Regions from separate parts of the Homo sapiens genome. Here region 1 is linked to region 2. Evidence: fine-mapped expression QTL. A gene starts in region 2. The other region holds a variant in brackets. All regions are shown on one strand. Distances are from middle to middle. Region 1 overlaps RBM18 (RNA binding motif protein 18). Region 2 holds the start of RBM18 (RNA binding motif protein 18).

Evidence for each region. PIP is the estimated chance that this variant, and not a neighbour inherited with it, causes the effect. A credible set is the group of variants that fine-mapping cannot tell apart.
Region 1: its variant is the best candidate, but not a certain one, in a credible set for the expression of RBM18 in tibial artery (GTEx, PIP 0.55).

Annotation. Positions count from the first base shown.
Region 1 is chr9:122,237,469-122,242,852 of GRCh38, reverse strand. RBM18 (RNA binding motif protein 18) reads left to right here. Exons shown (of 6, transcript NM_033117.4): 6 at 810-5,231. The coding sequence ends at 969. Among named protein-coding and RNA genes, the nearest start is that of LHX6, 11 kb to the right of the region's middle. RefSeq lists a silencer at 5,317-5,384. The variant A/G (reference allele first, on the strand shown) is at 2,857.
Region 2 is chr9:122,261,604-122,266,987 of GRCh38, reverse strand. It overlaps RBM18 (RNA binding motif protein 18), which reads left to right and starts at 2,148. Exons shown (of 6, transcript NM_033117.4): 1 at 2,148-2,273. MRRF (mitochondrial ribosome recycling factor) reads right to left here and starts at 2,106. Exons shown (of 7, transcript NM_138777.5): 1 at 2,050-2,106. RefSeq lists enhancers at 1,689-1,848, 1,024-1,994, 1,417-2,616, 1,995-2,966.

The sequences.
Region 1 (5,384 bases), 24 kb after region 2:
CCATCTCAAAACAAAAACAAAAACAAATTCAGATGGATGTGGTGGTGTGTGCCTGTAGCCCTACCTACTCACGAGGCTGAGGCAGTAGGGTTGCTTGAGCTCAGGAGTTCAAGGTTTTAGTAAGCTATGATGGCACCACTGTATTACAGCCTTGGTGGCAGAACAAGACCCTGTCTAAAAAAAAAAAAACAGTATAAGTAAAATGCACTGTGCCTGGCTCATTGTAAGCACTTTGTAAATGATAGTTTTTATTAACATGCATTCATCAGTAAAAAGAGATTGTATAGGATTTCCAGAATGTTTTTTTTCCATTTTTATTCAGTGATTCAGGTGAAACCTGGGCTTTTGAGTCAGTTTGTATTCAAATCTCTGCTCTATCGTTTACTTGCTGTGTAACATTGGGCAAATGAACCTTTCTGTGCCTCAGTTACATCATCTGCAAAATAAGGAATATAACCTATCTTATAATGTTGTTTTCAATTCTAAAAGAATTATTTTTAGTACCTACTCTCTGCCAAGCATTAAGGTGCTAACAGTGTCTGCGTCTGAGGATTAAATGTAGAACTATATGAAGTACTCCCAACAATGTCCAGGCTTATGTTAAAAACTTAATAGATGGCTCAGACTTGATCTGTTTCTTAGAATGAGAGAATTAGTTATTTCTGGCTTTTATATAAAATGTTTAAATGTCTGTAATTTAGTATCTTGTTGCGTCTCTAATATTCCCAAGAGGCTCAAGGAGAGGAACTGTACAGCTATTTTCTGAATATACCTAGGCCCACTCTGATCCTCTGCTATTATTTTTCCAGTGTCACTGCAAAGATAAAAGCCATTGAAGCAAAACTGAAAATGATGGCGGAAAATCCTGATGCAGAGTATCCAGCAGCGCCTGTTTATTCCTACTTTAAGCCACCAGATAAAAAAAGGACTACTCCATATTCTAGAACAGCATGGAAATCTCGAAGATGATGGTTGTGAATTACTGTAGCAGCAAAAGCAAATTGGTCTCCACACCTAAAATCGTCTGCCTGTGTACTTTGTAGATGTGAATGGTACTATTCAACGGAGCACAATCACATGTTAGCATTTGGTAACATAATGTTTTTGGATGTTCTTATGGATGTTTCTTCCCTAAACTATGTATGGAATTGAGCATCATCCAGAATAAATAGCGTTGTATCCCAAATTGTGATTTGAACCCTGGGATGCTCTAATTGGCTGGTTGGTTTGGATTTGTAACTCCAGAAACATTCTATAGTGTGCCAGAGCAAAAGGCAAATACACAAAATATTATTTAAATCAGGAAACTAAAAATATTAACATCTATTAAAAAATTGAGCATTTTTCTACGCTCGTGTGTCTTTTACAACATAAAGAAAAAGTAAAAGGCAGGGAGGGAAGTGAGAGACAGATTTTAAATCATGTTCAGAACTGTTGTTCCAGAATTTACTACGGCAATCCCTCCAACTGGACTGAAAAAGAGAAAGTTCTTGGCAAAAAGGAGCTGATTCTTTGAACAAATGTTGTAGTAATCTGTTTAAGAATTATGCTTATTGTTTCAAAATCCCAACTAGGAAAACATGGTGTATATCTTAAAATTGTTTGTGTTGACAAAACTAGAATCAAATTTAACATTTTATACCACAACACAAGTTCTATTTGGAAATTGAACTTTTATTCTATAGCAACCATTTTTTTCAAATCTAAATAACCATGCCTTCTATAATAACAAATGTTGCTATTATCATGGGACTTTTAAAATTACATTTATTGCATGGGATTGTTTTTATAGCATGAGAATGTTCTGTTTGGAATTATATCATGGTCAGTCTAAATAGAAAAAGCAAAATTTCTTTGAAAACCTAAACATTGCTATATTGGTCACTATCAAACATACAATTTTCTAATAATTGTGTAGCGGTCTAAGTGGAAGAGATTGCATTATCTTGTGCAGGACGAGGAGAGGACATGCAGTGGGCACAGAAAGTCAATGGAACAGATGCCACTGTGGCACCAAGACTGTAATGACTCTGTGTGGTAGGTAGTTTTAAAGGACTGCATGCCTTGGAAATGATTCTTCACTTGGAGAACATACTTGCCTCTAGATATGTTTGTCACTCTAAGCATCCTGAATATAACAATAGAGAAAGATAAGTCAACCAACAGATTTAGGGATGTGTTTCTTCAGCACATTTTGGTCATTTTGATGCCAAGTTTGACATACTGTTTAATTGGGCAGCACCTTTGCTCCTTTACCAGGTATGTATCACTTTGTTACTCCAGGTGCCATTCTTGGTGATGACAGAATGTTTATCACTATCGTTGTTAGCAAGAGGAAGCTTTCAATATAGGAACTTAACATCTTCCCATGAGTATAAATGAATTTAAGACATTTGAATCAAAACTTCAGTAGAGGGAGGTTTTAGAATTCATAAAACTGGTTTAAGGAAATTCTTTTTACTTTTCCCAAGGTTAATCTTTTTAAATATCTCTAGACATCAAATACTTTCTGTATGTATTAGCTGTGTCTGTCTATGATGCAAGTAACTCTCCTCCTATTTGGGGGATAGTTCAGAGAGGTAGGAGCATTATCTCCCATTTTTCTGGTGACTTCTTGGAGTATAGAATTCACCATTTTATCCGTAAGTCTTCAAAGGATTATGGTGGACTAGAACTTACATAGTGCAAAATAGTCTTCTATTTTTAATAGGAACTTAGAAAAAACTTAGAATTATATATAGAGTTGTTTCCTTTAGAAACCAGAGCTATTTATTTGTATTTAAAGCACTGTTTATTATTTGTACTGATTCTTATCCCTCTGTGTGAATAAATGTAAGACGGTGTCCGTGTGGTTAT[A/G]TCTTCTCTCGTTCACTTACTGGCATAGACTGCAGTTCTCTGACAGGCTTGTTTCCACTCAGGACTCTGGCCAGCATGTCCACGTGGGGTGCTTCTTCTAAGTGCCTTCTCTGCAGAGGGTTCTGGCTAGAGAGTCAAACTGAGAGGCAACTCTCTTTACCCTTTATGCCTGCCTACCTCTGTTGTTAGAGATGAGAATAGAGACCAGCTGTTTCCATTGCAAATGTCACTATTTGAAAAGAAGTTGTTAATGGAAATCTCTGCAAGTATCGTACTGTGTTTAGTCTCTCGTGGTAGAGATTTCAAAAGAAGAAATGTATGTATCCTAAATATGCTGAAAGCAGTCTGATGAAAGGTTTTTAAATTTCAGGTGTTAACTTGGTCAACTCTTTGTTAGGAGGTTGTCTGTACTTTAAGTAAAATTATTCTTTGGTTTACTGGTTATTTTGGTTTGCTAAAATTATGTCACTTATAATTTTGATTTATATACAAGAGTGAAGAATTGAAGGAAATACTGAGGAGAGACGTATGAACTATTTTCTTCATCTCAATTCCTATTTTATCAAATGCAAAATGTAATCCTAACCAGTTGATTTTCTATAATTGGTATCTTAGTACTGGGGAGGAGTATCACATGAGGAAAGATTTTTCAAAGCATGTCAGCTGAGGCACAAGAATCGCTTGAACCCAGGAGGTAGAGGTTCCAGTGAGCCGAGATTGTGCCACTGCACTCCAGCCTGGGCAACAGAGTGAGACACCGTCTCAAAAAAAACAAAAACAAAACAGGTCAAAAATCAGTTGCACAAGTTGTATGAAACCAGGTATTCTGCAGCTCTGTCTCTTGTTTATTAAGATATGCACAGTTTCTGAATCAACAAATATATCTGTGATTCTTTTATACTACTACATAAAAGAACAGGAGTAATTCTTGCCTTATAAATTAAATGTCAAACATTTCCTATATGTAATCATTTGTTCCTAAAATATGATTTAGTCCCAGCATGCTTATCCCTGTTTTCTCTTTTTCTCTCCAGCTCCTATCTAGTTCTTCAACAAATCCTGTCAACTCTACCTTCCAAATGCCTCTTGAATCCAGCCATCTCACCACCTCCAACACTACCACCATTTTTCTTAAAGCCACCATCATCTCTTCCCTGGACTATTACAATACCTTCCTAATTATCTCCCTGCCTCTGCTATTGATTCTTTAGGGTCCGTTTTCCACACAGTAGCCAAAGCAATTTTTAAAAAAATTATTTTAAAATGTGATTCTCTTCTTTGTGGCTTTCCATCACAGCCTAGAAAAAATTGAAAGATCTGTAAGGCCCTAATGACCTGTCCTTCACTACGTGTCTGACCCTATAGCCTACTGTTCTCCCCTTGTGCGGTGTACTGCAGCCACGTTGGCCTTCTTGCTATTCTTTGAATACAAGGGAGCTTCTACTTCAAGGCATTTACATTGGCTGTTGCCTTAGCTTAGAACGCTCTTTCTCCAGATAGCCGCAGAGCCCGCTCTCTCACCTGACTCATGTCTCTGCTCAAATGTTAATGATCAAGAGGCAGTCCCCGGCCTCCCTCTTAAAATTACAACCTGTCACTCTCCAATCCTTTCCTCACGATTTTCTCAAAAGCACTTACCGCTAACCAACATTATATCTAAATTTTTTTTTGTCTCTTTTTATTGGAATGTAAGTTTCATGTAAGCAGGAACTGTATATCACTGCTATACCCTCAGCATTTAAAACAATGGCTGTACATCATACATACTCAATAAATATTTGTTGGATAAACTACAAGAATTCTGGTATTTGAGAGCCAAAGGGCCTTAAGAGACCATCTCATATAGCCCCCTCATTGTCCAGATGGGGAAAACGGGAACCCAGAGAGACAAAGCGATTTGGCCAGGGTCACCTGGTTAATGGGAGAGCTTTAGGTAGAACCCAGGCCTGCAAACATCTAGTCCAGTGTTCAGCAAACTGGCCTCTGCCTCCTAATTTTGTATAGCCTACAAGTTAAGAATGATTTTTTTTTCATTTTCGAGTGGTTGAGAAAAAAAGTAAACAAAATATATATACTATATTGTGACATGAAAATGATACGAAATTCAAATCTCAGTGTATGTTAATAACTATTAGAACACAACCATGCCCAGGCATTTACATGTGGCTGTTTTCCCCATATAATAGAAGAGTTGAATAGTTGGCAATGAAGACTGTGGCCTACAAAACCTGAAATATATACTATCGGTCCCTTTACAGGAAAAATTTGCCAAACCCTACTCTAAACAATATTCCATGACTGGAAATGTGTTTTCTAAAATTCTCGTATTAATGCAGAGAATAAAAGCAACAGATGTCAGAATGATGTGCACCGAATATTGTTTCTTAGTCAATGTCTCTGACCCCTTACACATCTTTTGGGATAGAGAACTGGCTGTGCCAGCCCTAGTGGCATCACTGTACTGCTTAAGGCTATCAATGTGGGCTAAATCCTCTCATTGTCCCTGTGAGGAAACTAAGGCCGTAAGA
Region 2 (5,384 bases):
AGCCATTCTCCTAACTCAACCTCCCAAATAGCTGGGATTACAGGCGTGCGCCACCACACCCAGCTAATTTTTGTATTTTTAGTAGACGGGGTTTCACCGTGTTAGCCAGGATGGTCTCGACCCCCTGACCTCGTGATCCGCCCGCCTGGGCCTCCCAATGTGCTGAGATTACAGACTGAAATATTTTTTTAAACTACTTGAAGCACACATTCTTTTTCCAAAGTTGAGGGTCTCAAACGATTTCCCTGTTCTTCACAGAAGGTTCATTTTAATTTTGGCTAGATGACCAACCCAAAATCCTGGCTTATCTACTGTCCCAGCAACTCTTTTCAATGCAGCTGTATACTAGCTTATAACATAAGCACTTCTATGAGTGTGCATATACGCAGGCTCTTGCATATAAAATACTTTCACATGTACCATCTTAACTGGTTCTCATAACTAAAGAGTGATAATCACCACCCGTATTTTGCAAAATAAGAAAAGTGATCTTTCACTTCTCCAGGGCTCCCCCTGCTCCAGGGTCTTCAAACATGCCATTGAATCTCCTTGATGATCTTCCCTCACCTCTTTAACTGTTTGTCTCCGTTTTTATTTCAGATTTCAGCTTAACCATCACTTCCTCAGAGGACGGCTTCCTTGGCCATCTCCTACAGCCCAACTAGGTCAAGTGTCCTGTAGTCTGCTTTCATAGCACCCTTTACTTCATCATAGCACTTAATTCTTAACAATACAAGCTAACATTTGTGTAATTATTTGATTGTCTAATTCCCTCCATATGACTCTAAGTACTACAAGGACTAATCTATGATTTTCTTGTTCACTGCTGTATCCCCAGTACCTGGTACATTGCCAGAACACAGAAGACACTGTGAATGTGATGAATACATCAGTGAAAGTCCAGAAAGATAAATTCCTTATCCAGGGTAAACCAGAATCGGATGGGAATCTACCCTTACTATTATGGTAGGTTCTGGGCTTCCCAGCGTTGCCTCCACTGTCTCTGGTTTGCCAGATTTTTGCTTAGAGATAGTAGATGATGTTCTTCTCTAAATGCAGTACCAGGTAAAGAAAGGTACTTGTAGTATCTGACTATACACAGAATCATTATGCACCTGGCACGGCCAAAGAAGGAATGAGACACTTTAACAGGTAGAGAAAGGGCTTTTGCCTAAGAGTTAAGAGATCTGGATTCCAGTATGCCTACCTTATCACTCCCTGCCATCTGCCATTTAGATTCATAATCACACGTATTCAAAAAGCATTTGCGGCAGCTCTACCACTGACTTGTGACTTGTACCAAGTGATTTCTCCTACGTAGATTTTGTTTCAACCATAAAATGAAGGGGTCAGATCAGGTTTTCATTCTTTCCAACTATAAAGCTTTCCAAAATGGGGGGAAATGCAACAGTGTGGTTTAAAACAAAATAAAGGCACTAAACTTAGAGAAAACTCCGAGTCTTGGTTCCAGCACTTCCTAGGCACGTGACCTTAAATCGGTCAAACTCTCAGGACTTCCGTCTCATCTGTAAAACGTAAATGACAATACTATTTGTCAGGGTTAAGTAAATGGAGAAGGGCTACTGAAATGACAACTGTTTTGCCACTGGGTGGCACAGAGTGGTGGTTAAAAGTCCAGGCTTAGGAGTCGGATAGCCCTAGGTCTGAATTTAAGCGCCCTCACTTTCTGACCGCGTGACCCTGGTAAAATTACCTATGTGAGCTTCCGTTTCTTCATTATGGGAGATAATAATATCTACTCCTATGGGATTGTTCTGAAACTCAAACGTTCCCGTCAAGTGTGCGGCTACTCTTTAGTAAGTTCCTCCAGCATCCCCTAAATTCCTAGCTGGTAAAAGGAGCCCCGCCCCCACCCCATGAGACTCGCTCCAATGCCACAGGTCCCGCCCTCAGCCTTAAAGGTCAAGCTGGACTCGAACGGGTCGGGGACGGTAGTCTGGTCCCCTGAGGTCCCCCAGAGGTCCCTGAGTAAGGGTCTCTGGCACCCAGACCACACGCGCCCCTCGAGGCCCTGTCAAGGACACTCACCAGCTATCGCCCAGGTTACTAAGGAAAGACTCGTGCGACGGCGGCGACCGCAGCTGCGCGGACGTCGTGACGTCACGAAGCCAGGAGGCGGCGCAGGCTTAACGCGTCACGGGCGGCCTGGCAGCTGGCGGCATTGAGGCGGACGCGTCTAGAGGTCCGTCTGACCGCGGCGTCGGGACCTGGTTTCCGGGCATGAGCTGAGAGCACCACGCCGAGGCCACGAGGTGAGTTCGGCCGCGACATGTCCCTGCACCTCAGCGATGGGCCCGCTAAGAGGTCTTACAGGAGGCCGCCCTCGCAGGACTGCATCTCAGGCCCCGCCCCGGATTGTCCTGTCGCTGGCCCGGAAATAACAATCCGAGTAATGACCCTTCGCCTGTAGGAATTCGCAGCCAGAAATCGGGAAGCCAGGGTTCCAGGCATGACCCCACCGCTTGCTGTTAGGATCAGGTGTCTCTTCTTCTCTGGATTGCACTTTCCCCAGATGACTATTTCTGGCTTCCAGAGTTATTGCAGCTCAGCTGGAAAGACAAATGTAACCGCGTTTTGTGAACTCTGGTAGTCTAAAGGATTGTTGCTATTGCAAACGCAAAGCATTTTGATAGTCCCGTGCCGTCTTGATCTTTTATTACCCTTTACCTTTCCTCAAAAAGCCATATTCTGAGCTGTCACCAAAATTGTCTTATTTAAGACTCACAACGACCTCGTGAGACGACAAATTGTACCCATTCTAGGAAGGAAAAAGAAACTAAGTCTTCGAGTGGAGAAGCGGCTTGCTTCATTTAGTAAATATTAAGCACCAACCGTGAGACAGGCAGTGTACTTAAGTGCTAGAAATAGAACCGTGATCAAGATTGGCAAGGTCCTGTGCTGTGGGAGCTTACGTTCTAGTGAAGGAAATAGAAGAGGAAACATTAAGTAATACATTGAATTAGCATTTAGTAGGAGGAAAAAGATGGAAAAGTGGCTATGATATAGAATAACAAGGAACTCTGTTTAGGAAAGCTTTTCTATCGAGAGGATGCTTAAAGAAAGGTCATGTGACTTGCTAAAGGTGCAGTTACTAGGTGCAAAAGTCAGGATTTGAACCCAGACCCGCATAGCCTGCACTCTTACCAGTAAAACATGGTACCTTTTCGTGGTAATAAATATTAATAGCTATTGGTATTATTCCTGATTTTAGACATGAGAAAATCAGAATGTCCTATCATTCAAGTCCCAAATGTCATCTCCTTTAGAGAGGCCTTCCCTCCACTCAATCTATAGTCGTCGAGTCCCTGTCACATCACCCTGCTTAATTGTGTTTGTGGCATGTATCACTAATTATATCTTCTTTATTTATTTTGCTTTTGTTTTGTCCTGCTCCCCTTCCAAATACAAGCATCCAGAGGATAGGGACCTTGCTTGTTCACTGCTCTGACTCCAGTAACTGGATAAGTCCTAGATAATAGAAGCAGTGAATTTATTTTTTGAATGAATGATTTGTTTAAAAAGTAGGGGGAAAGGAAAGCAGAGGGAAGACAAAAATGTGTCTCCCCTGGGATTAAATTTATGTCTGTTTCACCTTTCTCCCAGGAGGTAAGAACAAGAGCTGTGGCTTTTTCATTTGTCTATTTCAGTACATAGCCCAGAGTTTAACAGTTCCTAGTTGCTTGACTTACATTGCTGAACAGATTAAAGATGTGAATGGGAAAGGAAGAAAAATACCCTCATGTGCAGGGTATTCAATAAACAATTACCTAGGGACTGCTGTGCTAGACTTTACAGGGTGTGCTGAGATGATTAAGAGGTAATGGCAGTTGTTGTGACTGCCTCCATGGTTCCTGTAGTGCTGACCTCTGAGGTACTTCTGGGTATAGGATATGTGTTCTCTAGCAGGGACTTCTGAACTCTGACACAGCCTGCTGTCCTCCCAGCCCCTAAAGCTTTATTTCACATCTGTCGTCTCATTTTTGGTCCTCGAAGCCTTAAGTTATAAACAGGGCAAAATTTATTAAAGATGGGTAAACTGAAGCTCAGAAAGAAATAACTTCCAGTGGAAATGCCACAGTTTGTGCTGGGCATGGTGGCTCACACCTGTAATCCCAGCACTTTGAGAGGCCGACGTGGATGGATCACTTGGGGTCAGGAGTTGGAGACCAGCCTGGCCAACATAGTGAAACCCTGCCTCTACAAGAAAATACAAAAATTAGACAGGCTTAGTGGCATGCACCTGTAATCCCAGCTACTCGGGAGGCTGAGGCATGAGAATTGCTTGAACCCGGGAAGTGGAAGTTGTAGTGAGCCGAGATCGTGCCACCGCCCATGAGTCTGGGCAACAGAGCGAGAGTCTGTCTCAAAAACAAAAAAAAAGAGAAAGAAAGAAATGCCACAATTTGAAACAATGTCTTCTGACACCAAGGTTTCTGCTCTTTCTACTGCTGTCTCCATCATAATCATAATCCTCTTTTCTCCTTGGCTGTGAGATGAGACATTTCAGGAACTAAGACTAGTAATAATTTAAGCTAACATTAATTGAATGCTTCCTAGGTGCCATGCACGGTTCTAAATGCTCTAGGTGTATTAACTCAGTGAATCTGCACTGTAATTTCATGAGGCATTATCCCCATTTTACAGATGAGGGAACTGAGGCCAACAGCTGTTAAGTAACTTGCACAGGGCTACATAGCTAGCAAATGGTGGAACTTGAATAACTAAGGAGGAAATTAGTCTCTTCTTCCTGGTCTGTCCCAAAAGAGTAAGCATGATAATAGCTAGTATTTATTGATTACTTACTGTTGTTAGATACAGTATTTAGTGATTTTTTTACTGTCTTTAATCTTCACAACAACTCTATAAAATAAGCACTATTATCTCTCTAGATAATGAGGAAACTGAGGCCTAGAAAGTTCAGGTAGTTCATCAAGTCACACAACCTGCTTTCAAACCCAGTTCTGTCTACGCACAGATTTCTTATATTGCCTCTTCTCTTTGCTATATTGCCTCTTCTCTTTGCTATATTGCCTCTTCCATGAGGAAAAGGGATGGAGTGCTGCTCTTCCCTACCCATCCCTTTTAATGCCATTAAGACTCTTCCTGGTGGTTTCCAAGGCTTATTTTGGGTGACAGTTGTTGAACTGAAGTATCATGTAGTAATAGAGACTTTGGCCTCCTGCCCAGTCAGCCTCTGGCTTCAGAGGAGGAAAACTTTAGTTTCTCCACACAGAACCACGCCCCTTTCACCTTAAATGGCAGCTTGTGTGCCCTGGCTGCCAGAGCAGTTGTCCCAAGGGAACTGGTTCTGGGGCCCTGGTTGTGGAATCACTGAGGCCTTTGAAGGACTGCCCAGAGGGCAT